Linked DNA regions of Homo sapiens: regions 1, 2 and 4 are each reported to be linked to region 3. Evidence: microRNA targets listed by miRTarBase, many of them from high-throughput screens and not tested one by one. Region 3 holds a microRNA gene; each other region holds the end of a gene's coding sequence.

Region 1 (7,115 bases), not on the chromosome of region 3:
TTCCTGAATGAGTATCTGGACCGGGAGAAAGGGCCAGGAGTCAGCCCACCCCGGTTGCCATTGGCCAGTTTGTCTGTGTGGGTGTTTTGTTTTTGTTTTTGTTTTTTGTTTGTTTTTTTGAGATAGGGTCTCACTCTGTTGCCTCAGCTGGAGTGCATTGGCACGATCTTGGCTCACTGCAGCCTCCACCTCCCGGGTTCAAGCGATTCTCCTCTCAGTCTCCTAAGTAGCTGGGATGACAGGTGCTCGCCACCATGCCCAGCTAAGTTCCCATAAGTCCAAAGAAGGAAATGGGGCCTTTTTTGGGTATGGCCCTCTTAGGGTAAAGCACCCCTTGGGCAGCCCACTGGGCACCCCTGACCCCAGCACCTCCCTTGTAGACTCAGGAAATCACTCAGCCCTTTTGATCATCCCGCCCCTGCTCACAGTCAACAGGGTTCCTATGCGTCCAGTTAGGCCCGGCCATGGGGATCTGGCCTTGTGCCCCCGTAGGGAAGACCAATGCAGAGGGCCAGTCACGGGATTGGTGAGTGTTACTTGGTACCTCCTGCCAGGGACACTGCAGCCCCCAACTGGGCCTAGCCTGCCCACCTGCAGGCCGTGTGAGCAGCGCACAGGGCTCCTCTGCCCACACCCAGAGGGGGCAGAAGGTGACCCTGCCTTTGTTCCCTCACCCAGAACATGGCTCTCTATGCTGACGTCGGTGGAAAACAATTCCCTGTCACTCGAGGCCAGGATGTGGGGCGTTATCAGGTGAGGGGCCAATGGTTCCCTTGCTAGGGGGCTCCCTGCTCCCGGGTGTGACCTGAAGCCCCAGGGGTGGCCGGTCAACCAGGGCCAGGGGCCGTGGGCTCTGGCTGCCGGAGTGCTGCAGTGTCGGCACTGGTGGTCAGGGTGGCCCCTCCGTGTCCACTCTGCCCACACTCTGCTCAACACCCAACCCAGGTGTCCTGGAGCCTGGACCACAAGAGCGCCCACGCAGGCACCTATGAGGTTAGATTCTTCGACGAGGAGTCCTACAGCCTCCTCAGGAAGGTGAGGACTCCTGTAGCCCACTGTGCTCCCCTGTCCCTGGGGAGCAGGATGGGCTGGGTTGGGAGGTGCTGGCAGCAAGTCCTGAGCTGGGTGGCCTTTCTGTGATCCTGTCCCTTCCTCAGTGTCTCTTGCCCATTTCTCTCCTTTCCTTTTCTGGGGCTTGGGCCGGTGTTCCTACCTGTCTTTCCCCTCCCCTCCCCACCCCCACACGCCAGGCACCCCTGACCCCAGCACCTCCCTTGCACCTCCCTTGCAGGCTCAGAGGAATAACGAGGACATTTCCATCATCCCGCCTCTGTTTACAGTCAGCGTGGACCATCGGGTGAGTGGCCTGGTCCCTCCTCCTTTTTGGGGTTGTTGGGCTGAGTGAAGGTTATCCTCTCCACAGCCCCAGCTCTGCTGCTGGGCCGTGATTGGCCAGCATGTCTTGGTTCCCCTGGCGGAAGGTGACCAGGGCTGGCTGGTCTGCTCACCTGTACTCCCCTGAGCTGGCTTGTGATCTCCTTTTTTTCAGGGCACTTGGAACGGGCCCTGGGTGTCCACTGAGGTGCTGGCTGCGGCGATCGGCCTTGTGATCTACTACTTGGCCTTCAGTGCGAAGAGCCACATCCAGGCCTGAGGGCGGCACCCCAGCCCTGCCCTTGCTTCCTTCAATAAACATCACAGGACCTGGGACTGCACAGGACCTGGGGCTGCTGGCTTGCGTTATTGTGCCTTCCCCCGACTGGGAGAGCTGGGGGCCCAGCGTCCTCTTGTCTGCCTGGCCAGCAGAGGCACCAGGCAGGAAAGGGGTGGGCTTTGGTCTAGAACTCCCGTCCCTCCTCCCAATGAAGCCCCCCGTCTGGTCCCCACAAAACCCTGTATCCACCTTCCCAGTGACTCTCTCCTGGTTCTGGTGAGGGCAGTGGGCTTGGCCACCTCCTCCCCAGGTGGCCCCACAGGCTCCATGGGGAAACAGCCAGCCTGGTCTTCATCACAGCTCCTGTGTTGGAAGCCCCGGGCCCATTCCGCACGCAGAGGGGTTTCCCTGCACTGCTTTCGGGCACAGCAAGTGCCCCCACCCTGCCCATGCGGCGTGCAGCTGTCTGGGCTTGGCCCCTCCATACTCCACACCCTGACCATGCCACCTGGCTTCCCGTGTGCTGTGCCTTCATGGGATATTGAGAAAATACACACCCATGGCCAGGTGTGGTGGCACACACCTGTAATCCCCACACTTTGGGAGGCCGAGGTGGGAGGATCACCTGAAGTCAGGAGTCTGAGACCAACCTGGGCAACATGGTGAGACCCTGTCTCTACAGAAAAAATAGAAAAATTAGCTGGGTGTGGTGGCATGCGCCTGTAGTTCAGCTACTTGACCTGGAGAGGTCAAGGATACAGTGAGTCGTGATCACAGCAGTGTGCTCCAGCCCGGGTGACAGAGTGTGAGACCTTGTCTCAAGAAAAAAACAAAACCCCACCTGTGAGGGGTACATCACTTCCTCCTAGAGACACCTCTCCCAAGAGCACCCGCGCCCTCAGGACACCAGGCAGGCATCCCGGCCTGGCACCACGCCTGGAGTTCATCCTGCACCTCTCCCATCAGCCTGATTTTCAGCTTGGCACATGCTGGCTCCTGACCAGCTAATGGTATTCCTTAGTGGCACTGAGGGCCCATGAGGCAGTGAGGGTCTTGGAGTCCAAAGGGACTGGGTGGAAATCCCAGGTGAGCCCTTCCCAGCCATGGGACCCAAGTCGGTTTGCTCAGCTGCGAGGCAGTGACAGTGCCTACTCCAAGGTGTCAGGGAGTCCACTGGGACCAGCCACCAAAGTCCTGACATCTGGGTCACCCATTGGCTGTTACTGGAGAGAAATGGAATTCTCCAGAGAGGCTGCCTTTTTCTTGTTTGTTTGTTTTTGAGACAGAGTTTCGCTCTTGTTGCCCAGGCTGGAGTGCAATGGCGCAATCTCAGCTCACTGCAACCTCCACCTCCCAGGTTCAAACAATTCTCCTGCCTCAGCCTCCCGAGTAGCTGGGATTACAGGCACCTGCCACCACACCCGGCTAATGTTTCGTATTGTTGGTAGAGACGGGGTTTCACTATGTTGGCCAGGCTGGTCTCGAACTCCTGACCTCAGGTGATCCATCCATCTCGGCCTCCCAAAGTTCTGGGATTATAGGCATGAGCCACCGCGCTCAGCCAAGGCTGAAAAGGAGGGAAGGCCCAAAACTTGCCTGGGAGGTAGGGGCTCCTCAGTACTTCAGCTCGGTGGCTAGAGAGAGCAGCACTGAGGGGCCGGGGGTGTCAGGAGCAGGTGAGGACTGCCTGTGACCTGGGTCTGTCAGAGTCTCGGGGAGGGGGTCATCTATATAAGCAGGGAGCCCTCTTCCCACCCCCAGGCCTTGGGAGGGGGGTTGGGAGGGGCCGGCTGCCAAGAATAGGTGGGCTTCTAGGAAGAGCTGGGCGCTCACCCCAGGACAGTGCAGCAGGAGCGTTGGGGCTGAGGGGCCACACCAGCTTTGCCAGCAGATGCAGTTTCTAGATTCCAGAGGAGACTCAGCAGCCTGTGCAGGGCGGGTGGCTGGGGCAGGCCGGGTGCAGCAGGCACCGGGGCGACTGTCGGGCGCCCGGTTGCTCTTTTTAGTTCTGGCTCCACCACGAAGCCTGATGGCCGTGGGACCCAGACGTGAAGTTGCTATTCCAGGGCATCAGTAGCCAAGTGCTGCCAGCCTTCCTGGCGCCACCTCTCCCTGAGCCAGCCAAGGGACTCCAGGCTCCAGGCCCATATGAGCCCACATCCCGTGAACACTGGAGGGCACCCCACCATTGGAAGAAGGGGGGTGCCTTTAGGACCATCCAAGTGAGCCCCCCAGCAGCTAGAGGGAGGCCAAGGGGACAGTTTGACCTCCATCTCCAGTCAACTCCGGCCAATTCCCTGTGGCTGGGCCCTTGGAGCCTTGTTCCCCCAAGGGACAGGGTTAGGGAGCTGGTCAAGGGTTGGATGTGCCAAGCCCTCATGGGGGTGAGGCCCTGAGGGGTGGGGGAAGCCATTATCTCCAGCCTCTGCCCTCTGCTCCCCTTCCTGCCATCCAGCCAGCAAGCCTCTTCCCCTCTTCCCTGCTGGTGGGGTGTGATATGCCAGGCTTTCCCTCCCAGAGCTGCTGTGCGGCAGAGAGGCAGCTGGCACCCTTGTGATCCAGCCTTCCCTGCAGCGGGACTCCAGGCTTCTGGGAACAGGCACTGGGACTTTTTCCCCCCACAGCCTTCTTAGCGTCTAATCCGTCACTGACTTGCTGCCCCGATCTCGGCACTTAAGAGAAGTTTAAACGAAAAAAAATTTTTTTTGAGACGGGGGTCTCACTCTGTCGCCGAGGCTGGAGGGCAGTGGCATGATCTTGACTCACTGCAACCTCCACCTCCCGGGTTCAAGTGATTCTCCTGCCTCAGCCTCCTGAGTAGCTGGGATCACAGGCACCTGCCACCACGCCCGGCTAATTTTTGTATTTTTAGTAGAGACGGGGTTTCTCCATGTTGGCCAGGCTGCTCTCGAACTCCTGACCTCATGTGATGCACCCACCTCGGCCTCCCAAAGTGCTGGGATTACAGGCGTGAGCCACCGCACCTGGCCTATATTGTCTTCTTTCTGGAGAATTTGAATGCCTCCTTGACCACTTCCGCTCCTTCATGGCAGCACTGCCCACTCCAGGGAGTGCCACTCCCATGAGAGGCTGTGCCCATGTTTTCTGCGGAGTTGTCTTTGAGGCCCTGACCCTGCCCAGCATTGAGCATGGCTCCTAGGACTTGATAGAGCCCGAAGGTTTGCTGAGAGCTCCCAGGATGGAAGGGCCCTGGCAACGACGCGGTTATTCATCTATCTGGCCAAGACATCCACTAGGTGCCTTCTGCAAACTGAGCACCTTGCTAGGCACTGTGGGATCACCAAATGGGGAGGGCAGCTTCCGCCTTCCAGAGTGGACGGCATCAGGCCCTGCTGGGAGGGATGGGGCTGGAACCCACTTCTCTGTGGCATGTGCCAGCAGCGGGCCCCACCTACGGTTTGGCCCATGGAGATGACCGTGGCCCTTGCCTGGAGGCTAGTCTGAAGTCAGGCTTCTGCCAGCCTTCTGCATCTGGTCACCACCCTGTGACTGTGACACCTCTGAAATGACTCAGGCGACTCTGGTATATCTCCTGGAGTGCCACACAATTGTCCATGGGAGGTCACAGTCACTGCTCCTGACATCCAAGACAAACCGAGGGCTGCAGCGTGGCTTTCAGTTGACCCTAACCCTGCCCCCCTCTTCCTTCTCCCACCCCAAACTGACAACTCTTTCCCCAGCCCAATAAGAATGAACACAGGGAGGCCACGATTCAACCAAGTACAAAGGCAGCTTGCTTTATTCTTGAGATGCAGGGGGGGAAGGGGTGGTGCAGTCTGTCTGCCTCCAATCTGGGGCTCTCCAAGCCTAAGGGGCACCCCACAGGCAGCCTAGTTCACACGTGCAAATCCTGAGGAGGTTGGGGGCCTCTCCTTCCCAGTCAGCCCACCGCCTCTCACTGGGGTCCAGGTTGCGGATCGCCACCAAGTCCTCCCCAGGCCGCATGGCCCGAGGTCTTCCACTGCTGCTCATGGGGCTTGGTTTCTAGAGCCCTCACCATCTAAGCACCTTCCTCAGTTCACTCAGAAGAGAAGCCCCTGCTCCAGATGGTGTGGGGCGCAGAACGGGCTCTGTGACTTCTTGGTGGACACCCTGCAGGACCCCTCCGTTCCTGCAGTCTTGCTCTCTCTGAGTCACTGGGGAAACAGGTGCCCCCCAGAGGCTCCCCGTTCCCACACCTCAGAGTGGAAGCCACCAGAACAGCTGCTTCCCATTCCTCCCACCTTTCCCTCCCCTTCCCTCCCATCCATCCCCAGCCCTCCCTCCCACTCTTCCTCCCCAACTCCCTTCCCAGCCATCAGTGGAGAGGGGAGTTCCACTTCTGCCAGGCTGCCTGAAGGAGCTGCCAGCCCCCAGGGCAGGTCCACAAAACAAAACAACTATTGGCAAGCACAGAAAGGGAGAAAAACCACAAAAATCAGGGGTGCCTTTGTCTACAAATAACTGCAGTGCGCAGCGGCGGGGAGAGGCCGCGCTCAGCAGCGAAGCCGGACACTCTCTTGTGCTCCTTTCAGCTCAGCTTCCCTGTCTGCAAGTACACGGGTCGGGTGGAGAGAGCACTGGGTGTGTGTGTGCGTGCACGTGCAAGCACACGCAAGAGCATGGGGGATGGGGAATGCACACGCACAGCTGAAGGGGTGCCCATCACAGGTGTGCCCCCAGTGCTGGCCACTGGCATGGTCACTTTACTTGGGCAGAAGGAAGAAAAGCGTCCCTTCTCCTCAGGGGCTTCTCTCTGCTAACAAAGCCCTGTGCGCACACCCAGACGAGGAGATGTGTGCGTGCGCACAGCGAGCACGCGCGCGCGCACACACACACACACACAATCTCTATAGGAGAGTGAGGGCCGGGGCCCCAGGGGGTTCCCTGGGCCTGGGCCGTGTACCCGCCCGGGCAGCTCACACGGTGGTGACTGAGAGAAGAGGGTTGTAGACCCGCTTGCCATCGGCGGAGCGCGCGCCGTGGGCCAGCATCTCCTGGATGGTGATCCAGTTGTCCAGGATCTTCTTGTTCCGCTTCTTCATGGTTTTGCGGTGGCTCAGGGCAATGATGTTGAGCTCGGGCTTGCTGTCGCCATTCTGCTGCTCCCGCAGGCACTCCAGCCGGCTCTGCATCATGAACTCGCGCCGCTTCCGCTGCTCACGGGCCCGGATCAGGTGCTGCTTCCGCTCCTCCTTGCTCCAGTAGCGGCCCATCTTCATCTCGCTCACCGCGTCGTCGTCGGTCGTCATACCGCTGCGCTCCTCCCGGATCTTCAGGGCACGGGCTTTCAGCAGCCGATCTCGCACGGGCCGCTTGGCCACGTAGCGGGTTCCGTCGCTGCGCACCTTCACTTTCCACTCCATGCGCGGTGCTTCAGTGGCCGCGGCCGCCACCCCGCCCACCCGAGGGCCACCGGCCAAGCTCAGGGGGCCGTGGCCCAGCTCCTCCAGGCCTCGCG
Region 2 (7,115 bases), not on the chromosome of region 3:
TGCCCGCCTCAGCCTCCTGAAGTGCTGGGATTACAGGTGTGAGCCACTGTGCCCAGCCCTGAGATGCTTTCTTCTCTTGTTCGTGCACCTTGTTCTTTGTAAGGGCTTCCAGAGACGCTGACTGGTCATGTTCTCTCTCAACTCACAGCCTCAATCCTGGCCCTGTTTCTCCAGGCCTGGTGATAGGGTCTGCCTCCCAGCCCCTCCCTCCATGAACTCATCCCTTCCTCATGCAGATCACTCGGCAGCAGTACCAGAACGGGCTGCTGGCTTCTCGCATGGAGAACAGCCCTCAGTTTCCCATAGACGGGTGCACCACCCACATGGAGAACTTGGCCGAGAAGTCTGAGCTGCCTGTGGTGGACGAGACCACAACTCTTCTCAACGAGCGTAACTCCTTGCTGCACAAAGCCTCCCACGAGAATGCCATCTGACAGGAGGGCCCGGGGCCCCCTGCCCACCCTGCGGGGGCCTCCCCAGTGGGCCCACATGAAGAGAGGGAACCTGTTAGTCCAGAAAGGATACGGATAGATAGCCTGTCTGACTGAACAGCCAGATGGCCCCCAGCCTATGGGGGATCTGGCCTCTGCCAGGGACCTCTGAGTAGCTCTGAGGTGGCACTGTCCAGCCCTGGATAGGGGGGGCAGTGGGCCAGCTACCGTAAGCAAAGGCTGTTTTTTACTGAGAGAATTTCTAAAGTAGGCTCATCACTTTTTTTTAAATATCATTTTGGGAAGGGAAGACAGGGTTAAGGAACTTTATTTAAAAAAAAAATATTTTTTTCCTAAAAACTATAAAAGAGGAAGGGTTTCTTGTCCCGGGAAGCAACGGACATAATCTGTTCCCAGCCATGGCCTTCCAGCTTGTGTCCCTGATTCAGGGAGCTCTCCCTTCCTCCTCCTCCTCCTCCTCCGGAGGTGGGATCCCAGAGCCTGCCAGTGGAGGCTTATCTGTTGGGAGGAAGACAGCTCTTCACAGAAGCAAAGAACAAAATGGCATGGAGATCAGCTGCCTGAGCACCTGCGCTGTAGCTTATCTGACAACGCTGAGGCCACGAGCTCCTGGGTAGCTGTGATCAGGGACATGATAATCTGAGCTATGCAGAGGAGCACATCTGTTGTCAACTGCTGTACCCAGAAATCTAGAACTCTGCCGACAGCCTCTCCTGGTGAGTCGGGACTCAGCTGAGGACACATCCCCACCCTGCCTCCCATCTGGCCCTTTGGACAACTGGCCCTTTGTGACAGGGCTGACTCAAGTGTTAGGCAGGGTCTCAGGCCTTTGATTGCTCACCCCTGCTCCCCAGGCCCTGCCCTCACTTTTACCAAAGGTTCTCCCTCGGCGGGAGGGCATCTGTGTTGGAGGTGATTTGTCTGGGTTCTTCCTTTTGGTTCCAGAAGGAACTGTCAGTCATCAGCATCTGCGTTGTTAGCAGTCAGTACCACCCCCGCCCCACAATGACAGTCAAGGCTGACTTGTTGACTGAAGCCTTTTTCCCAGACCCCTTATTTCGAATCCCCAAGCTTCAGTCCCTCTTGGGGGTGGAGACAAGAGGACATGTGGGAAGCCACGGAAGCAGGTTCTTTATGTCCTCTCCTCTGTGGCTGGCAAGGCTCACCTGGCCTTATCCACCCACTTATGGAACCTCAGGAGAGGAGGGCTCCTCCTAAAGGCATGCAGCTTGCAGCCCCTCTTTCTCACACGTGTGATCCTAGCGTGAGAGGTCATCCTGCCCTTGCTGAAGTTAGTAGTACTGTACTAAGAGCTCTGCCCTCATGTGAATTCCTGCCCTGGCGCCTCTTCCCTGGGGCTGAATCAGGCCCTGCTGCAAAACTCCAGGCTTCCCAGGGTTGGGGAGGCTGTGGGACCAAGGTCCATGTTGGTCCTTCCACTGGGTGCAGCAGGAGCTGGGTCCCGAGAGCCTGGCAGGTGAAACTCTGCAGGCCTTCCGCCTGATTATTATTTATTCACTCCTTTCCTCACCCCAAGTGCCCTGCTCTCCAGGTGCCTAGAGTATCCTAACTCTTAGGACCAGGGATTGTCTTGCACCAAGTATGCCTACCCCTGGCCAGTCTGAGGTCTCCTAGCCATAGAACTGACTCCTGGAAGCCTGGAGAGAAGGTGGTGACACCCATGGGTTCTCAACTGTAAGGAAAAAAGACACCAGACTTTTGTTCCCTAGTGGGGGAAAGCCCTTAGTCTTGTACAGGAGCAGCTTGCTCCCAAGTCCTTTTGGAAGCTGGCAGAGCTATATTCCTGACAGCCCTGACTGCCAGGTAGAGCAAAAGACATTGGTGGGGGTATGTGAAGCAAAAGGGGCAGGTGCACACACCTCCACAGTGACCTCTGTGCACACGGTTACCACCAACTGGCTGGCCCTCCTCCTCTTCCCTGGCCCATTGATCATCCCTTCTCACAGAGGGTCATCATTATTTCCAAATATTGTTTGTCTGATGACTTCCTCTTCCCAGTGCAATTTTTCCCTTCCTATTTCAACCTCTGGTTCCTGGGATGAGCCATACCCTGGAACTGGCCCACCCACTGTGTCTTCCACGTAAGGGAGACCTTTGCAAAGGGCATCCAAATGGGTAGGCAGGTGACAGCCGCCGTATTTATTTTGCATAATATTTTAATTTGTATATTTTTGTGATTTATTTTGGCGTTATGAGTTTGACTCTCGGGGAGTTTTGTTGTTATGACTCTTGTGTCTTTTGTCACAAAACAATGATATTTGCTAAACGATATATGGAATTTATTTTTGATTGGTAATAAAAAATCAAATATGTATAAATCCTGGTGAATCTACAACTTGCCTGTTTGTTCTGTCAGTATTCAGTATGTTGTTGAGATAAAAGTGGCTGTGGCTGGCTGTCTCTTGTGATGGGACAAGGGCAATAAAGGATTCTAGGACCATTCAGCAGTGAAATGCAATCAGAAATGGAATTTCTAAATATAGTCAAGGCTGTCGTCACAGGAGTGAGAGGGACGTGGCTGCTGGCAGACATACAGGACAGATGTGCTCAGCTGCCATAAGCATGAGTCCTGTGAAACAGATCCCATAGGGCCCTTGGCTTGTGAGTACTGGAAGGGCAGTGGGCTTCAGCAAATTGCCCCTCCTCCCTACCCATGGGACTGAAAGAAGCTTGATCCAAAAGTATGAGTAATATTGTTTTATAACATGCAGCTGCCTTTTCGTCCACACCTACAGGCTAGTGGTTTCAAAGTTGGAGTGTTCATCCCTTGAAGAACCTGAGTTACGTCACTATACCCACTCTCAAAGTTGCAGCTCTGCAGGGGACTCCCATGGTGCTGTACAGGTGCTGCAGGCTGGCTTGTGCGATTGAGTGTGCTGAGGCCAGGGGCTCCAAGCATGCAAAGTTCAATGGAGTAGACAAACTGGGGGCATCTATGTAGGCAACAAAGAAAAGAGGATATTCCAGATAAAAGAGGTACACATGCCAACGTCTGTGTCTGGGGCAAGATTTGTAAATTATCTTCATCCATCTGTTCCACACGTTTAAATCCCTTTCGCACGCCAGGTACTACCAACCCCTCTGTGAATTTAATGAAGAACCTTCCCACCACCCCAAGGGGGACAGTCACACACAGCTTTTCCATTTGCTGTCTCCCTGACCTGGGACACATCTCCTAAGTCTTGGCGAGGCTCACCCCTTATTTCATTTAAGCCTCAGTTCAAATGCCATCTCCTTGAGAAGGCTTCCGATTAGCCCATCTCAATCAGCATCACCCCAGCATCTGTCTCTTTATCTTGCCTTTTTCCCTCCATAGCACTTACTACCAAATATTGAAATATAGACTTGGGTATTTTCTATCGTCCTTGCGCTAGAATCTAGCCTCACAAGGGTAGGGACTTAATTTTATTCCCACTACAGTCCCAACACTAGAACAGTACCTGCTACACTGCAGGGACTCAATGCAGGAAATACTTGTTGAATGAATAAATGAATACATGTTACAACAGGGGATGTACTGGATGATATGGGGAGAGCACATAGCTCCAATAACCTTGAGCCAACCTAGTCGAGGGTCAAGGAAGATCACTCGGAGGGAGCAGCATATGAGCTAAGGCTTGAGAGAGAAGCAGGAATTAGCCGGTGGGTTTAAAACTCAAGAATAAATATTTAGATATAACATGGAAATGTCTTGATCCAAAAGACCAGTAAGGAAAACGGCCCAGGGAGGGCCAACAGTGGTCTGAAGGTCAAGTGGCTGTGTCTCCACTGATGCTAACCAGGGGTGGGGTAAAGAATGGCACAGCCACAGGAGAAGCTGGTCAAGGACTGTTGAGGCCTCTACTGCAAAAGGGAAACCACTCCAGGAGCAGCTTTGCGTGCCCCATATTGGATTTTTTTGTATCTTTGGGTACTGACAATTTAAATGACCACTTACGTTTTCCAAGTTTGATCCAATTGTTCTTCCACCTGAAGCTTTACTCCCAGAAAGTTAGTTATAGGTTGTTTTCCAAGGAAGCCTGAGACAAGGAAAAAGTAACCTGTTGAAGGTGAGAGCTCTGTCTCTAAATCCATGGGGAGTTTTTCCTGGCTTTTCTCTGGAACTGTTGTTTGTTAATGACTTTTCAGGCACATGACTCATTTCAAGCATGTCATCCATTCTATTTCAATGTCAGTATTTTATCTTGACGTGGAGACAGAAGTGAGAACTAAAGGAGCTGAATCTATTGTAATGTTTGCACTTTTTTTTTCTTCAGAGGCATGATGTTGCAGTGCAAAGGCCCAGTAATGTCTTTATTGCTTCTGCTGGCGGCTTACTCTGTAATCTGCAAAAGTAAGGTAAACTCAAAGGGCACAGAACATCACCTGAATAATAAAAAACACGGAGATGCCCCATTGGCCTAGTCACAGCTCTGAGTTTACAATGCAGAAGAGACACTATTACCATCTTTTAAAAATACACTATTACCTTTTTTTTTTTGAGATGGAGTCTCGCTCTGTCACCCAGGCTGGAGTGCAGTGGTGCGATCTTGGCTCACTGCAACCTCCGACTGCCTCCCGGGTTCAAGCGATTCTCCTGCCGCAGCCTCCTCAGTAGTTGGGACTACAGGCACCCGCCACCAAGCCCGGCTAATTTTTTGTATTTTTCGTAGAGACGGGGTTTCACCGTGTTAGCCAGGATGGTCTCCATCTTCTGACCTCGTGATGTGCCCGCCTTAGCCTCCCAAAGTGCTGGGATTACAGGCATGAGCCACCGCGCCGGGCCACTATTACCATTTTTTTTTTTTTGAGACATAGTCTTGCTCTGTCGCCCAGGCTGGAGTGCAGTGGCGTGGTCTCAGCTCACTGCAAGCTCCGCCTCCCGGGTTCACACCATTCTCCTGCCTCAGCCTCCCGAGTAGCTGGGACTACAGGTGCACGCCACCACACCTGGCTAATTTTTTGTATTTTTAGTACAGATGGGGTTTCACCATGTTAGTCCGGATGGTCTCGATCTCCTGACCTCGTGATCCGCCCGCCTCCGCCTCCCAAAGTGCTGGGATTACAGGCGTGAGCCACCGTGCCCGGCCAGCTATTACCATCTTTTAAAAAGTTTTTTACAGGCCGGGCGCGGTGGCTCACGCTTGTAATCCCAGCACTTTGGGAGGCCAAGGTGGGTGGATCACGAGGTCAGGAGATCGAGACCACGGTGAAACCCCGTCTCTACTAAAAATACAAAAAAATTAGCCGGGCGTGGTGGCGGGCGCCTGTAGTCCCAGCTACTCGGAGAGGCTGAGGCAGGAGAATGGCGTGAACCCGGGAGGCGGAGCTTGCAGTGAGCCGAGACTGCGTCACTGCACTCCAGCCTGGGTGACAGAGCGAGACTCCGTCTCAAAAAAAAAAAAAAAAGTTTTTTACAAAGCCTTTTCCTTTGGTCACTCACCACCAGCTTACTCATTTTTTTTTTTTTTTGCACATTACCTTCCACACAAGTTTTACTTTGTGGCCACAATGTGCATACTTTTTTTGATTGTTACTTTCATGACATAGCAAATTGTTTCTATAGAGTCTTTATAAAGGTCATTTAAAATGACATGTGCAGTAAGTCAAAGTCTTCTTGTGCTAGGAAATTTGAAAAAACAAAAGTGTAGAGAAAAATACAAAAATTACTGAATCTGAACATCTATAGAGAAGTGTTGTTAGCAGTTGGTTTATTTCCTTCCAATCACATACAGATCATATCTGATGGGTAAAGAATATTCCATACTGTCAACAGACCACACTGTCTTCTAAAATCGCTTCAGCAGTGAGGATCCTCTGGAATAGATCTTGTTAATCCTGAGGAATTATTCTCCCAGCGGTGAGCTATGAGAAGTGGAATCACCAGATGTAGTAATTCCTGACAGAACTGCCGCCTGCTTGTGTGGCTGAGATGCTGACCTAGGTATCAGGCTGGTCGCGCCGGAACCCAGCACCCACGCTGAGTCTTTCTGAGCTCCACTCTGCTCCTGTTAGATATTAACCACCTGAGGTAGCTGTCCAGATTCAAGGCGGTAGTGATTTTGTGTGTCTGTGTATTTATCACGGGGTCCGCGGCGGGAACGCAGGGGCTGTGTCCCACGTCCCCAAACCTCTAGTAGGGTACGGCGCGATGAACATCTTCCATAAACCTTAAACCTCCCGGCGCTCAGTCACTGGTTCTTATTTCAGCCCTCTTAGCCCCGTAGGTCGGCGCGCTGAAAACCTTTCTGGTACCTGGGGCCTTTCCTAAGAAAAAGGCACATGTCTCGCACATTTCAGTCTGGTCTGCAACTTCAGGCGCGCCAGCACCCGAGGTTCTTCCGACCGGCCGCTCCGCTCCCAAGCCGGGAACTTCCCAGAGAATTGGCTCGGCCTCCGGGCGCGGGGGACAGCATCGGGAGGAGTGGGACTCCGGGCGCCGCGCACGGGCCGAGGACAGCCGGGCTTGGGAGGCCCTGCCCGCCGCCCCGCGTCCTCCCGGCCACTGCCACCCCGCGCATCCGGAGCCGCAGCAGACTCGGCGGGGCCCGGAGCCCCACGCCCCCGGCCCGCCCCTGGCCGCCACTTGTTTACTCCCCGGCGCAGCCTAGTCCGACCCTGGGGCCCGCCCCCGCCCACCGCCTATTGGCCGAGGAGGCGCGA
Region 3 (7,115 bases):
GAGAAATGACCTCAGAGTGAGGAAAGGCAGTAGGAGGGGTCGGGCAGGGAGCCCGAGGCATCTGCCTGGCACTTCCCTAGACCATCTGCACTTCTGCTTCCAGAAATCATACAAAGTGGCCCCTGTGACCTGAGAGTGGGAGACCAGGTCTGTTCTGACCTGGGGCTCCGGGGGCAAGTGCAGTCAGAATTTCTATCCCTGCCTCAGCCGACTGGCTTAGGAAAAGGCTTCCAGAGAAGCCCCTCATTTCCCAGCTGGAGTGACACTCAGTGGGTCTTGAGCTTTAAATTCCCCCTGGTGTCTCAGAGGGCCTTGGGTCCTGTGGCATGGCTCCTGGCAGCCTGGCTGGTTTAATTTTGTTCCGGATTCTCCTGCCTCTGGGGCTAGAATTTTCACTTGATCAGTTGACTAACAAGTACCCGGCCATGCAAAGAGAACTGTGAGATACTGGTCTCCACCCTGAGCTTCATCTCCCACCTGCAACGTGGGGCTGTTGAAACCTACCTGCTCACTTTGGAGGCGTGTCAGGGGGACACCAGAGGGATGCGCTTGGGCAGCCTCTCTCCTTGACCATCCTGTGCCAGCCCTGGGGTACAGGTGAGAGTGCGAGACCATTGGCCCCTACCCACAGGGAGTTCCCAGGCCTGTACGTGGGATCCAGAGGCAGGGATAGGGGGATAAAGTCTGGCTTGGGGGATCCGCAAATCTCCCCCGCTCCCGGCCACCAATCTCATAAAGCATGAGGCTGTGGATCGTAATAGAGAATAGGGTGAGAGGAGGACTCTTACCCAGACCCCCAAACTCCCAGACACATCAGAGAATTCACTGTAGAAAGTAGAGAGAAGACTGTCGAAAGTAAATCTTCATAAACTGCTTTCTACACGGAGAAACCCGTCTGAACATAAAACGATAGAAGAACGAGAAATAGAAGTGAAAATGAAAAACCACCCAGCGTGTGAAGGCAAAATGTGCAGGCCTGTGCCCGGGGAAACTGATGGCCACAAATACAGCATGGAAAGTATTAACAAGCTTAATATATAGCAATTTTTAAAAGGCACTAAAACCTTCACAGGAAAGTAAAAGAACATGAAGCAGTAATTTGTGTTGGATTATGATGGATAATAATCATATAAAAAGTTTCATTCTCACTAGTAATAGAAAAAAAGGCAAACAAAATCAAGAGCGTGTAAAAGATCTTCCATCTTGATAGACACATCCCTGGGGTGTGACGCAGCCTCACACGCGAGGGTGACGACTAAATCTCTCCGGAGAGTCATCTCACTCCAAGAGGGATCCGCGCCCGTAATATGTCCCAACCCTCTGCTGCCGTGAAATCACTCACCGCTTCTTGGAATCTCTTCTAAGGAAATAAGCAGAGATGCAGACAAAGATTTTTATAAACAGAAGGTCACTTTCATTTTATTTTAAATGGTAAAAAAAAAAAAAAGTAGTATTTTAAAAGTTTTTTCCCCTCTCAGGAATTTTGAATGGAGACTTTGGAGCCAAATGTCTATCTAAAAATAGAACATTCTGGAAATAACAGTTGTGTCTACAGAAGAAATGTCTGCAGCTCCCAAATCAGTCCTTTTTCAGCTCCAGCTGCACACATCAATAAGAAATTAGCAACGATGTAAATACCCGAGAGTAAGGAGGTAGATAAATAAAAGATGAGGAGGCTTCCTTGAGTTGAAATATTTTGCAGCCATTAAAAACGAAGTTTATGGAGTTTTAATGACGTGGGAAAGTGCTTCTGATGTGAGGTTAAATGAAAAAAAAAACAGTATGAAAATCTGTATTTTAGTACCACTGCGACTGTGTAAATATACAAACCCATACAAAAAGAGCTGAAAGGGAAAACACCAAATGGTAACGGTGTCTATCTCCAGCTAGTGGAACCGTGGGGGGGGGGTGTCTTTTCTTCTTTATTTATATTTTGTATGTTCTTGAATTTTTCTACAAAGATCACCAATTACTTTCAGAAAATAGAATATACCCATCCTGCTCCCCACCACAAAATCGTGTGGGTCTCTGAATAGAAGAGACAGCAGAAAGGCCAAGAAGAGGGGAACATGAGCCAGGGTGGTCACGGCATGGGGCGGGGGGTTGACAAAGTTGGCGTCAGACCCCCAGGGGCCTTGAATGCCAAGCCCAAGAGCTTGAACTTCACCCAGAGCCCTATCTTCTGCCCATGTTCAAAGAGGACAGAGTGCCCCTTCTTGACAGTTAGGGGCTTCCAGGGGTAGATACAGGTGGGAGAGCAGGGTATTGTGGAAGCTCCAGGTGCCAACCACCTGCCTCTATTCCCCACTCTCCCCAGGGAAGAGTTTCACCCTGACCATCACTGTGTTCACCAACCCCACCCAAGTGGCGACCTACCACCGAGCCATCAAGGTGACCGTGGACGGACCCCGGGAGCCCAGACGTAAGTGCCACCGAGCCCCCTGAGCCCCTGCGCGGGGGAGGAGGGTCCAGTGCGGGAAGGACAGCAGCTAGGTCAGACAGATGGAGCCCTCCTCGGGGGGTTGCAGTCCTTGGCTCTGTGCCCCCACACACTGCGTGCCTGCTGGCAAACCCCTAAACCCTCTGGGCTTAGCCTGAGACCGTGGGAGGCCAGCGAGGAGGCTGGGAGTGGAGATGACTGTCCATGGAGACTACTGAGGGAGTCAAGGAAAGGAAAAGGATGGAGAAAGCTTTCAGATATGGCATTTGTCGGGTGCTTGTGTGTTTCTGGGTGGAGGTTGAGCCAGGCTTGCTTTACTCTGCCCCCAGCTTCTCTGCGGGTGGCTGAGGGATGCATGGAGGGCAGGAGTGATCAAAAGTCAGGGGCTGGTCTGGCTGTGAGGCCAGGCCTCTTCCTTGGAAACTGAGTCTTTGAATCTTAGCATGTGACTTGCTCAGGTCACCCAGAGTCCGGGCACCCAGACCCTATGAGCAGGGAGTTCTGGTCCATCAAAGCGAGTTTGTGTTTAATTCTCTCTGCTTGCTGAAGGTCAGATTAAGGCTGGGGAAGTGGGAGGGTAGGCTGAGGCTCTGTGTCCACAGAATGAATGAATGACTGACTGACTGACTGACTGAATGAATGAATGAATGAATGAAATAGAGCCAGCCAGCTTCCTGAGCTCCATCCCACCTCCCCAAGGCATTTTCAGCTTGGTGCACTGAAGGTTGGCCCACCCCTCTCTTTCTCAGAAATGTGACCCTTTGTAGTTTAGAAGACCTTTTAGCAGTCACTATTGAATGGGATCTTGATGACAGCAGAGCCAGAGGGGTCACCCAAGTTCCAGTGAGGAGAGAATCCAGGCCTGAGGGAGTTGGGTACCTGAATAGGACCTAATGCTGTGCAAGGAGCAGGAAGGCGCCCCAGGCTTCAGTCTTCCCAGAGGCAAGATTCTAGGCTGAGCAGGCCTGGGGCAGGAGGCCTGGGGCAGGAGGCCTAGCCCTGGGCTGGCCCCTCCCTTCTTGGGAGTCAGCTGGGCCTGACACCCCATCATCCAATTCCTGGGCCCATCCCAGCATCTGGCCACTTGGGAAAGGCTTGGAGCTGAGTCCAGCAGCCCTGGAAGAGTTTCCCTCCAGGGCTCTCAGGGTCACCTCTGCCAGCCCTGAGCCCCGGCACGCATCCTCAGGCCTGCACCGTCAGCTCCCAGCCAGCACTTGCCCTGGCCACACTCCTGCTGGTTCCCTCCTGCTGAGATCAGACATAGACCAGCCCATGCCCTTGGCCTTGGGCTTCATGACCCTAGGCAAGTCATGTCTTCTTTGTGGCCTCAGTTTTGTCATCTGAGAACTGGATCAGTGACTCCAGGAGTCTCAAGGTGGTGATGGCTGGGAAGCCCTCATGAGCCATAGACCACCATGGTGTAGAGAGCAGTTTCCAAGCCAGCCTTCCTGGCTGTGGGTCCTTGGGCTAGTCATCTCCGTGCCTCAGTTTCCTGAACTGAAAAATGATATTCGCACAAGCAGCTACCTCATGATGCTATTGCGAGGAAACAGTGGCTTAATCTATAGAAAGCACTTAGCGGTGGGGGTTAGCAAGGGATCCGTCACTTTAGCCAGGGCTGTTATCTGCAGTGTGACCTAGGGCAAGTCACTGACCTCTCTGGGCCTCAGCTCCCTCCTCCATGAAGTGTGATGATGCCACCCACCCTGCGGACCTGGAGATCAGGGGCGACATGTGGACAGCACGTGGCCGTAGCACAGAGGGGTCCCATGAGTCACTGGGTCCGCAGCGTTTTGTCGTCCTCAGTACCCAGCCCCCTTCCTGCACTCCCACCACCACCATTAGTCAACGGTGAGCTCTCTCATGGGCAGCAGCTGGGTGGCTGCCTTGGTAATAGAGGTGCAGGTATCAAGTCTCCATTGAAGGAGGTGGCAGCCCTGCCCTATGTCTCCAGGGGCAGGGTCAGCATGGACAGGAGCCTCAGTTGGGCTCTGGGTGGGGATGCGGCACTCAGAAGCCACTCCAGAAAGAGGGGAGCCACTCCAGAAAGAGGGAGGCACGGGACGGGGTCTTGACGCTTGGTGGGAAGATCCAAGGGACCGGGCAAGGTTGGCCCCTCTGAGAGCCCTCCATGCTCAGCCCAGCCCACCCCAGAGCCGCCCACTCTGCCCTGCTGGGACCCCTGGATGAGCATGGAGACTCAGCCCTGCCTGTGGGAGATTCCAGCAGAATCCCCTGCCTGCTCTTCCCTGCCTGGGTCTCCCAGACCTGAGATGGCCCCTTCTGGGGTGAGCTGGAAGGTAAATGCGTGGCTCAGGACGAGGCAACAAGAGGGAGGGACAGAGGCTGGGCCTGGAGACCCACGGCGTCAGAAGCCAGGCTTGCTGCACCACCTGAGACAGGTGACCTCCCTCTCTGGGCCCCGGCAGCGGCTGGATCAGTGGTTTTATTTACAGAACAGAGCAGAGATGGAGTCGGGGGGCAGTCTACTAGGTCCCCCATCCTTAGGACCTGCCTGTTCCTGTCCCTGGCATATCCTGGCCCTGAGATCAGGTCCCCCCCCATACCCTGGGTTGCAGCCCCACTCCTTTGTCTTTGGCCCTGGACAAATCCTTGGCCTTTCGGGTCCTCAGCGTCCCCATCTGTAAGAGTGAAGGGACCAGCTCAGCGGCTCCTGGTCACTGAGCAACCCCCTCCCTTGCGTCAGGCCCTGTGCAAAGTCCCCAGTAACTGATCTCTTGGGCAACCCCAGGAGAGGATAGAGGCCAGGGCGCAAAACCTTTTGCCCAAGGTGACTGTCAGCACACCCTGGGGGCTCCGACCCGGGGGCTGCGGGAAGTGAGGGCCACTTGGAAGGGCCTTTTCACCTCAGTGTGCTCAGCTGTCAAATGGATGGTATTGGTGTCTGCCTAGGGGAGTCGCTGTGAAGGTTGACTGAGTTTACCGGGGCCTGGCCCCAGGAAGTGCCCCCACAACCTTCACAGGTTGTTACAGGCCTTTTGTGCTCCTGGACTTCCTTTCCCGGCTTTTTTCCTGTTTTGCCACCTCCGACCCTCTGAAATCTGAGCCCGCTGTGGGGTGAAGTGGGAGTAGGGGCTGGTCCTGGGAGCCAAGGACTGGGAATCTGTAGATCCCTGAGGCCGGCTGTGGGTTCTGTGGCCGGGTCGTTCCCCTCTGGTGCCCTGCAGAGCGTGCCCGGCCTGCAGCCAGGTGGCCAGCTGGGTTTGAAGGCTGGCTTGGTGGCTTCCTGCCTGTGTGGCCTCGGTTTCTGAGGTTCTCAGTGCTGGTGTCCCTCAGAGTCACTGGGGGCTGGTTAAGAAGCAGGTTGCTGAGCCAGGTCCAGGATCCCAGCAGGAGGGGCGGTGACACCTGGCAAGTCTGGCATGGACCACGGTGGGGGAAAGGCCCTCACGCCCCCCTAGCCTGTGCCCGTTACCCCCTGCCCTCCCTCCCACATCCTGCTCTGGCCACCCTGGTATCCTGGCTGGTCTTTGAACTTGCCAGGGACACTCCTGCCTCGGGGGCCTTTGCACTGCTCTTTTTTCTATCTGGAACACTCCTCCCCGGACACCCCCAGATGCATGGCACACTCCTTCACACCCTAAAGCCTCTGCACTTCTCAGCAGCCCGCCTGTTTCAAGTGGCACACACACAGCCTTCCTCACCTCTCCCCCTTTTCCTTCCTGGCTTTAAGGTTACCCCGAGCACTTACCACTACCACCTTCTAAGGTGCTATCTAGTCCGATAGTTTGTTTCATTTGTTATTCATTTCTCCCATTTTGTTTTGTTTTGTTTTTTGAGATGGAGTCTTGCTCTGTTGCCCAGGCTGGAGTGCAGTGGCAAGATCTCGGCTCACAGCAACCTCCGCCTCCCAGGTTCAGGAGATTCTCTTGCCTCAGCCTCCCTAGGAGCTGGGATTACAGGCACACGCCACCACACCCAGCTAATTTTTGTATTTTTAATAGAGACAGGGTTTCACCATGTTGGCCAGGCTAGTCTTGAACTCCCGACCTCAAGTGATCCGCCCACCTCAGCCTCCCAAAGTGCTGGGACTACAGGCGTGAGCCACCGCACCCGGCCCCCTGTTGTTTATGCTCTACAAGGGCAGAGTTCTTTGCTCTGGTTTGCCAGGCCCTGGTATAGCTAGACCCTGAGAATGTGGGCAGGAGCCCTTCACAGCTGCTCCATAAATCGTTGATGAATAAGCAAATGATTCATTAATGTCATTTCGGGTAGTAGGAAGTCCTATGAAGAAAAACAAAGCTGGGAGAAGGAGTGGAGCGTGCAAGGGATGGAACAAGGGATGGGGCGGGGAGGCCTCCTGAAGAGGTGACCTTTGAGCAGGGGCCTGAAGTGAGCAGCCAGCAGAGTGTGGCTGCCGAGGGTTTGGCGTGGGCAGGAGAAGTGACCCTGAGCCCGCAGTTGGGCCTTTGAAGGCCTTAGAGTTTCTGTAGTTTCTTCCTGGGCTGAGGAGAGGCAGCTGCTCCAGGTCCCTGGCTCCCAAGATCCCCACAACCCCCAGGAGTGTCTCCTGCGCTAGGGGCAGGGCTAGCGGAGTCTGCCCAGCAGGAGGGAAGGGGTTAACCACAGACCTCCTGGGTTCTCCTAATCAACCCCAGGCCTCTGGAAGCCCCACTTGCAGCCCTGGGAGGGAACCGCTCGCCTCCCTGCCCGC
Region 4 (7,115 bases), not on the chromosome of region 3:
ACCTGGGATTATAACTATTGTTTTTTGCAGTATTTTGCATAAGATGCTTCCTTCTCATTGTGCTCCGTTAATGAATTACGTAAACTTCTAATAATCCTGAATCTTTTTTTGCATAGCATATATTCCCTGTTAGTATATGTCCCATTATATATCCATCTGTGGTATCTATGTTCCCCTTGCTAGGAGTGAGCTCTTTAAGAGTGAGGACTGTGCCCTAGTCATCTTCATATCCCTGATACCTATGTGTAATATGTTTTCAATGAAGGATTTTTGTTTGTGAACTCAGAGCTCAAAGTGTAATTCCAACCACTTCTCCCTATCCTTTGCTCCTCTTTTAAATGGGGACTAATGATACCTTCCATACCTGCTTTACAAGGTTGTGTGAGGCTCAGCATCTTAGAGCTAATGAATGAATATGTTTTCTAAACTGTTGTCTTATCTCTTCCCCTAGGACAATCATGAGGAAGACTATTTTCTGTATGTGGCCTACAGTGATGAGAGTGTCTATGGGAAATGAGTGGTTGGAAGCCCAGCAGATGGGAGCACCTGGACTTGGGGGTAGGGGAGGGGTGTGTGTGCGCGACATGGGGAAAGAGGGTGGCTCCCACCGCAAGGAGACAGAAGGTGAAGACATCTAGAAACATTACACCACACACACCGTCATCACATTTTCACATGCTCAATTGATATTTTTTGCTGCTTCCTCGGCCCAGGGAGAAAGCATGTCAGGACAGAGCTGTTGGATTGGCTTTGATAGAGGAATGGGGATGATGTAAGTTTACAGTATTCCTGGGGTTTAATTGTTGTGCAGTTTCATAGATGGGTCAGGAGGTGGACAAGTTGGGGCCAGAGATGATGGCAGTCCAGCAGCAACTCCCTGTGCTCCCTTCTCTTTGGGCAGAGATTCTATTTTTGACATTTGCACAAGACAGGTAGGGAAAGGGGACTTGTGGTAGTGGACCATACCTGGGGACCAAAAGAGACCCACTGTAATTGATGCATTGTGGCCCCTGATCTTCCCTGTCTCACACTTCTTTTCTCCCATCCCGGTTGCAATCTCACTCAGACATCACAGTACCACCCCAGGGGTGGCAGTAGACAACAACCCAGAAATTTAGACAGGGATCTCTTACCTTTGGAAAATAGGGGTTAGGCATGAAGGTGGTTGTGATTAAGAAGATGGTTTTGTTATTAAATAGCATTAAACTGGAATTGACAAGAGTGTTGAGCATCCCTGTCTAACCTGCTCTTTCTCTTTGGTGCCCCTTATCTCACCCCTTCCTTGGAATTTAATAAGTCTCAGGCATTTCCAATTGTAGACTAAAACCACTCTTAGCATCTCCTCTAGTATTTTCCATGTATCAGGACAGAGGTGTCTTATGTAGGGAGGGGGCAAGTATGAAGTAAGGTAATTATATACTACTCTCATTCAGGATTCTTGCTCCCATGCTGCTGTCCCTTCAGGCTCACATGCACAGGAATGCTACATGATGGCCAGCTGCTTCCCTCCTTGGTTATCATCCACTGCAGCTGCTAGTTAGAAAGGTTTGGAGGGATGACTTTTAGTAAATCATGGGGATTTTATTGATTTATTTTCACTTTTGGGATTTTGTGGGGTGGGAGTGGGGAGCAGGAATTGCACTCAGACATGACATTTCAATTCATCTCTGCTAATGAAAAGGGTTCTTTCTCTTGGGGGAAATGTGTGTGTCAGTTCTGTCAGCTGCAAGTTCTTGTATAATGAAGTCAATGCCATCAGGCCAAGGAAATAAAATAATTGCTTACCTTAAAAATCCACTGAGTTCAGCAATGTTGCCTTTATTTTGTATGTATTAGAATAGATGATATGTGGACTCTCTGAACAAAAGAACTAAGTGGGGAAAGCTGTTAGTGATGAATGTTCACATATGGTCAGACCCATATATGTTTACTCAGTTCTTTAGTGAGCAGGAGTTGCTGTTCAAGGGTGAATGTTATGCTGGGGCAGTGTGCCTGCTGCGTTGGTGGTGTGTGTGTGTGTGTGTGTGTGTGTGTGAGAGAGAGAGAGAGCTTTTTCTCCTCCAAAGATAAGTGCATCGTCACTGTTCTATGTGTTTCTGAAAGCTGAAGGTGGAAGACTGCCTACGTAGAGGTAAGGGGTGGGCTGTGCTAATTACAAATGCAGATGTCTAGGCCATCTCCCAGATTTAGCTGACTCAGAATCTCAGCGTTAGGTGTCTAATTTTTAACAAGCTCCTGATATGACTGCTGCACACTGAAGTTTGAGCGTCATTGCTTTTTGCACCAGGTTTTGCTGTAGGTCCCAACCACACCTTACTCTCTCCATCACAACTTGGTCAGTCTGAAGCCACCATCTCCCAAAGCAGCAAATAGCACCTAGGCAAGGCTCCCGGCATCAGAACAAGCTTGGTGTCTTCTGACCATATGAAAGTCTTGTTCAGTTATTCAGGAACGAATATGTGGGTGGGCTTTGAGCATGCAAGTTAAATGAGAGAATGGAAAACAGATTAGTGAAAACTTCTTTCATGAAAAACCTTAAGACCCATCTCTAACCCTCTCTAATCTCTTGCAGTCATATCCCCAAGTGATGTCTACCTCTGTAGAGAGTTAGGGAATATATCAAGGTCACCAAAAAGGAAGTAGGAAGTTATAAAAGATCCATGCCAAGCAGCACCACATGCAGAAAATTATGTAAGATTACGGAATTTTGATGAAGGCATTGAAAATGGACACTTGTCCCTAATGACAAAAATATCAAGGTGCTGTTCCCTGATAAAGCCAAAAGGAAGCTAATATTTGAGTTTAAGATGTGAACTGTATTTTGAAACTAACAGATTTATCCATGACCTAGGAATGAGACTGGATGAATATTTGAAAGAAAGCAAAAAACACATGGCGGCAGATCCTAACCCTCTGTACACATCTGAAACAGTCCCTGTAGGGCAAGAGACTGTAGGCCATTGCTAAACCAAAGAGATCGTTTGAATTTAGGGGCTGTGTCTCTCCCAGGTAGGCTTTGCTTATTGTAGGCCTACTTCCTGGATTTTCCTAAGGAACAAATTTTGTCCTTGGATAGGACATTACATATCATTTTCGACAAGCTGTCTGATTTTACGAAACAGTGGAGTTTTTAAATAACAGCCAAGTTCAGAGGCAAAGTCACACCAGCTGTTGTGGAAGTGTGTCCGGAATTGGTGGGTTTTTGGTCTCACTGACTTCAAGAATGAAGCCGCGGACCCTCGCGGTGAGTGTTACAGCTCTTAAGGTGGCGTGTCTGGAGTCTGTCCCTTCTGATGTTCAGATGTGTTCGGAGTTTCTTCCTTCTGGTGGGTTCGTGGTCTCGCTGGCTCAGGAGTGAAGCTGTAGACCTTCGCGGTGAGTGTTAACAGCTTTTAAGGTAGCGCGTCTGGAGTTGTTCGTTTCTCCCGGTGGGCTCGTGGTCTCGCTGGCTTCAGGAGTGAAGCTGCAGACCTTCCCAGTGAGTGTTACAGCTCATAAAAGCAGCGTGGACCCAAAGAGTGAGCAGTAGCAAGATTTATTGCAGAGCAAAAGAACAAAGCTTCCACCTTTTGGAAGGGGACCCAAGCAGGTTGCCAATGCTGGCTGGGGCTGCCTGCTTTTATTCTCTTATCTGGCCCCAACCACATCCTGCTGATTGGTAGAGCCGAGTGGCCTGTTTTGTCAGGGCGCTGATTGGTGCATTTACAATCCCTGAGCTAGATACAAAGGTTCTCCACGTACCCATCAGATTAGTTAGATACAGAGTTTCCACACACAGGTTCTCCAAGGCCCCACCAGAGGAGCTAGATACAGAGTGTCCATTGGTGCATTCACAAACCTTGAGCTAAACACAGGGTGCTGATTGGTGTGTTTACAAACCTTGAGCTAGATACAGAGTGCCGATTGGTGTATTTACAATCCCTGAGCTAGACATAAAGGTTCTCCAAGGCCCCACCAGAGCAGCTAGATACAGAGTGTCGATTGGTGCATTCACAAACCTTGAGCTAAACACAGGGTGCTGATTGGTGTATTTACAATCCCTGAGCTAGACATAAAGACTCTCCACGTCCTCACCGGAGCAGCTGGATACAGAGTGTCGATTGGTGCACTCACAAACCTTGAGCTAAACACAGGGTGCTGATTGGTATATTTACAATCCCTGAGCTAGATATACTCTCCACATTCCCACTAGACTCGGGAGCCCAGCTGGCTTCACCCAGTGGATCCCACACCGGGGCTGCAGGTGGAGCTGCCTGCCAGTCCCGCGCCGTGCGCTCGCATTCCTCAGCCCTTGGGTTGTTTGTTCCTTCCCGGTCGATGGGACTGGGCGCCGTGGAGCAGGGGGTGGTGCTCGTCGGGGAGGCTCGGGCCGCACAGGTGCCCATGGAGTGGGTGGGAGGCTCAGGCATGGCGGGCTGCAGGTCCCGAGCCCTGCCCCGCGGGAAGGCAGCTAAGGCCCGGCGAGAAATCGAGCGCAGCGCCGGTGGGCCAGCACTGCTGGGGGACCCAGTACACCCTCCGCAGCCACTGGCCCGGGTGCTAAGTCCCCCATTGCCCCGGGCCAGCAGGGCTGGCTGGCTGGCTGCTCCGAGTGCGGGGCCCGCCAAGTCCACGCCCACCCGGAACTCCAGCTGGCGCGCAAGCGCCCCACGCAGCCCCGGTTCCGCTCGTGCCTCTCCCTCCACACCTCCCTCCAAGCTGAGGGAGTGGGCTCCAGCCTTGGCCAGCCCAGAAAGGGGCTCCCACAGTGCAGTGGGGGGGCTGAAGGGCTCCTCAAATGCCACCAAAGTGGGAGCCCAGGCAGGGGAGGTGCCGAGAGCAAGCGAGGGCTCTGAGGACTGCCAGCATGCTGTCACTTCTCAGCAGGCTGGATTGGATTTGGCACTTCTTTACTGAAGGTCAGTTCTTCTCAGCGCCGCTTCCATGTTTTCTGCTAGTCAAGCTTTTAATGCTTCTTTGTGCCGTCAGGCCATTGTGAGGCTTGTCATGAGCTAAAAGTAGTTTAAGAAGCCCTTCGTTAACCTGGCCCAGTGTTCCATGTTAAGATTAGTTAGATTGTTAGTTAGATTGGCTTACTCTGATTGACTTGCTTCTCTCTGGGGATAAAGGTTGAATGATGTGTCAAATGAGATTAGGGAGGCCAGTATGACATGAACATCAAAGATGAGTGAGTCCTTAGCTCTTCCATACACTTCGGTAGAAAGATTTCAAATATATGTAGGGTAAGCATACATCTTAAGTTTGCCAAAGATAGTCTTGAATTATGCCGGTTGTCCTGATTGATTTATTAGTGGTTCCTTATTTCACTGTCACATGACCCCCCCCCCCCCATTGGACGAAATATGTGGTCACTCTCTATGTAGTATAAACATTGAAGCCTCTTCCATCAAGAGAGACACAATGCCTGTGCCATCCAGGTTTAGTGCTCCCCAGTATGGGTCTTACCCTGTCAGGTGGAGGGAGACTAGACAAATCATTCTACTTGTGAATGGCAGTCTATTCTGCTTTTCTTGATTTTTCCCCCAACCCTGACTTGTTTTCCTCTTTCAAAGCATTGTGCTTTCAAAGCATTGTTAAATTTTTTTACTGTATTGTGCAATCAGAAGTTAAGATCGCAAAAGAACAAAGCAAATTATGATTAATGTACAGTAGTAACCAGGCAGACAAGATCACTGCCTCATGCACTGCCTCATCACTATAAAATATGAATAGAGCCCCCCCAGAGTGGTGCAGTGCAGTCCCCTGGTCACTGCAGTGGCCCTTTGGACACAAGTCTTGTCAGTTACAGTTGTCTTGAGAGTGTTACACTTATTAAGCTTACAATTCTGCATTCTATTGGTACTGGTACCATCAGATAGAACAGGTGTGTTGTAATTTTGAAGTGGTGTGTGGAGGGGGGCCATGCATATCCACCTGCCCGTGGGTACAGCATCAAGTCAGCTGTAATAATGACAAATTCAGTCATTTTGGAAAATGAACTAGTTGATAAATTCATATTAGTTCTTATACAAAATTTGTAATTAACTATTTCTAGCTGTGGTTTCTTTTGGATGTTTTTGCTTTGCCAGATTTAAACAAGCTACAAACATTTATTTAACTTTAGTTATTTTTAGCTGCATGAAACTACCAAATATTTCAGAAACAAGTCCATTTTGCCTTTGGTGGTTCTGAGTCCAGGCTGTCTGAGTAATGGAGAATTCCCTCCTCACCTATGCCCACTGCCCAGCGACCCACCCCTTTGTTTACCTTTGATAAGTAGCTGAACAACAACAACAAAAAGTCCACACACACAAATACTAGAATCCCTGTTCCAAAAGCTGTGACTGATGATCTCAGCTTGGTTACCCTGTGTAGGGCCCTGCCTCATTTTCTTTTCCTTTTTTTTTTTTTTCCTCCTGGTTGTGGGCACTTCTTAAGTATATGTACCCATGGCTAGATTATTTTCAGAGTTTGAAATAACAGGAAGTTATCACCCTTAAAAGTAGTCAAATGACATTTCACTATGCCATTGTGCAGGTGTGCATGTTTTCAACAGTGACTAACAAAAGACAAGTCATTCTCCTGGTGTGTTTTCATCACGGTGGGGCCATCTATTTCAGTAGTTCTGTTTTCAAAAGCAGTGTATTTAAGACCCTTAGGACTTCTGTTTAGAAGTACTTAGCTCCTAAAACTTGAATAAAGTGATCCTGAACTTTTGGGTGAGAAGTTGAAACATGTTTTCTATTTTTACACTTTTAGTAGGCTCAAAGTTGCTTCATACCATTCAGTAAAAGAATGATGATGGCTTTATTGCTTCTTTAAGCAATATGCACATGGTATTCAAAGGATAAAAGTAACAATAAGCCATATTTTACGTGCTAAAATTGGCTAGTTCCTAACCTCCTTCAAGTCTTAGATACTATGTCAAGGAGACCAACTCTGAACATCTCTAATATTCAACACCTTCCCCCTACTTCCCTTTCTCCTAGTCATTCTCAACCTTGGTCTTTGTCTTTTTTGCTTCGTAGTGATCATGTAACATAATTTTCTAGTTTATTATGTCTTCTCTCTCTAGATCCTGAGGTGCAGGAAGGCAGAAACTTTTTGTGTAGTGATATACAACAATTGGTCAGAAC

The links. Region 3 holds the annotated microRNA hsa-miR-6731-5p (UGGGAGAGCAGGGUAUUGUGGA, at 2,251-2,272, shown strand). A microRNA usually pairs through its seed, bases 2 to 8, with sites in the 3' UTR of a target mRNA and lowers its output. Matches are read on the target gene's strand: a 7mer-m8 pairs with bases 2 to 8, a 7mer-A1 pairs with bases 2 to 7 and ends in A, and an 8mer does both.
Region 1: miRTarBase lists PDZD4 as a target of hsa-miR-6731-5p. Seed matches in the 3' UTR shown: 7mer-m8 at 6,137-6,143.
Region 2: miRTarBase lists CNNM4 as a target of hsa-miR-6731-5p. Seed matches in the 3' UTR shown: 7mer-m8 at 885-891.
Region 4: the mRNA of GABARAPL1 is a reported target of hsa-miR-6731-5p. Seed matches in the 3' UTR shown: 7mer-A1 at 1,038-1,044.

Annotation. Positions count from the first base shown.
Region 1 is chrX:153,796,780-153,803,894 of GRCh38, forward strand. PDZD4 (PDZ domain containing 4) reads right to left here. Exons shown (of 8, transcript NM_001303512.2): 8 at 5,387-7,115. The coding sequence ends at 6,574. SSR4 (signal sequence receptor subunit 4) reads left to right here. Exons shown (of 6, transcript NM_006280.3): 3 at 679-753; 4 at 946-1,035; 5 at 1,292-1,357; 6 at 1,550-1,720. The coding sequence ends at 1,654. Among named protein-coding and RNA genes, the nearest start is that of SSR4, 5.7 kb to the left of the region's middle. RefSeq lists a cis regulatory region at 3,930-4,204.
Region 2 is chr2:96,809,084-96,816,198 of GRCh38, forward strand. It overlaps CNNM4 (cyclin and CBS domain divalent metal cation transport mediator 4), which reads left to right. Exons shown (of 7, transcript NM_020184.4): 7 at 237-2,791. The coding sequence ends at 434. It overlaps CNNM3-DT (CNNM3 divergent transcript), which reads right to left and starts at 4,574. Exons shown (of 2, transcript NR_149141.1): 1 at 4,411-4,574; 2 at 3,156-3,406. RefSeq lists an enhancer at 6,332-6,451 and a silencer at 6,792-7,115.
Region 3 is chr1:24,914,547-24,921,661 of GRCh38, reverse strand. MIR6731 (microRNA 6731) reads left to right here and starts at 2,246; the gene lies at 2,246-2,317. It overlaps RUNX3 (RUNX family transcription factor 3), which reads left to right. Exons shown (of 5, transcript NM_004350.3): 3 at 2,318-2,422. RefSeq lists an enhancer at 6,667-7,115.
Region 4 is chr12:10,221,336-10,228,450 of GRCh38, forward strand. GABARAPL1 (GABA type A receptor associated protein like 1) reads left to right here. Exons shown (of 4, transcript NM_031412.4): 4 at 452-1,793. The coding sequence ends at 517. Among named protein-coding and RNA genes, the nearest start is that of GABARAPL1-AS1, 9.8 kb to the left of the region's middle.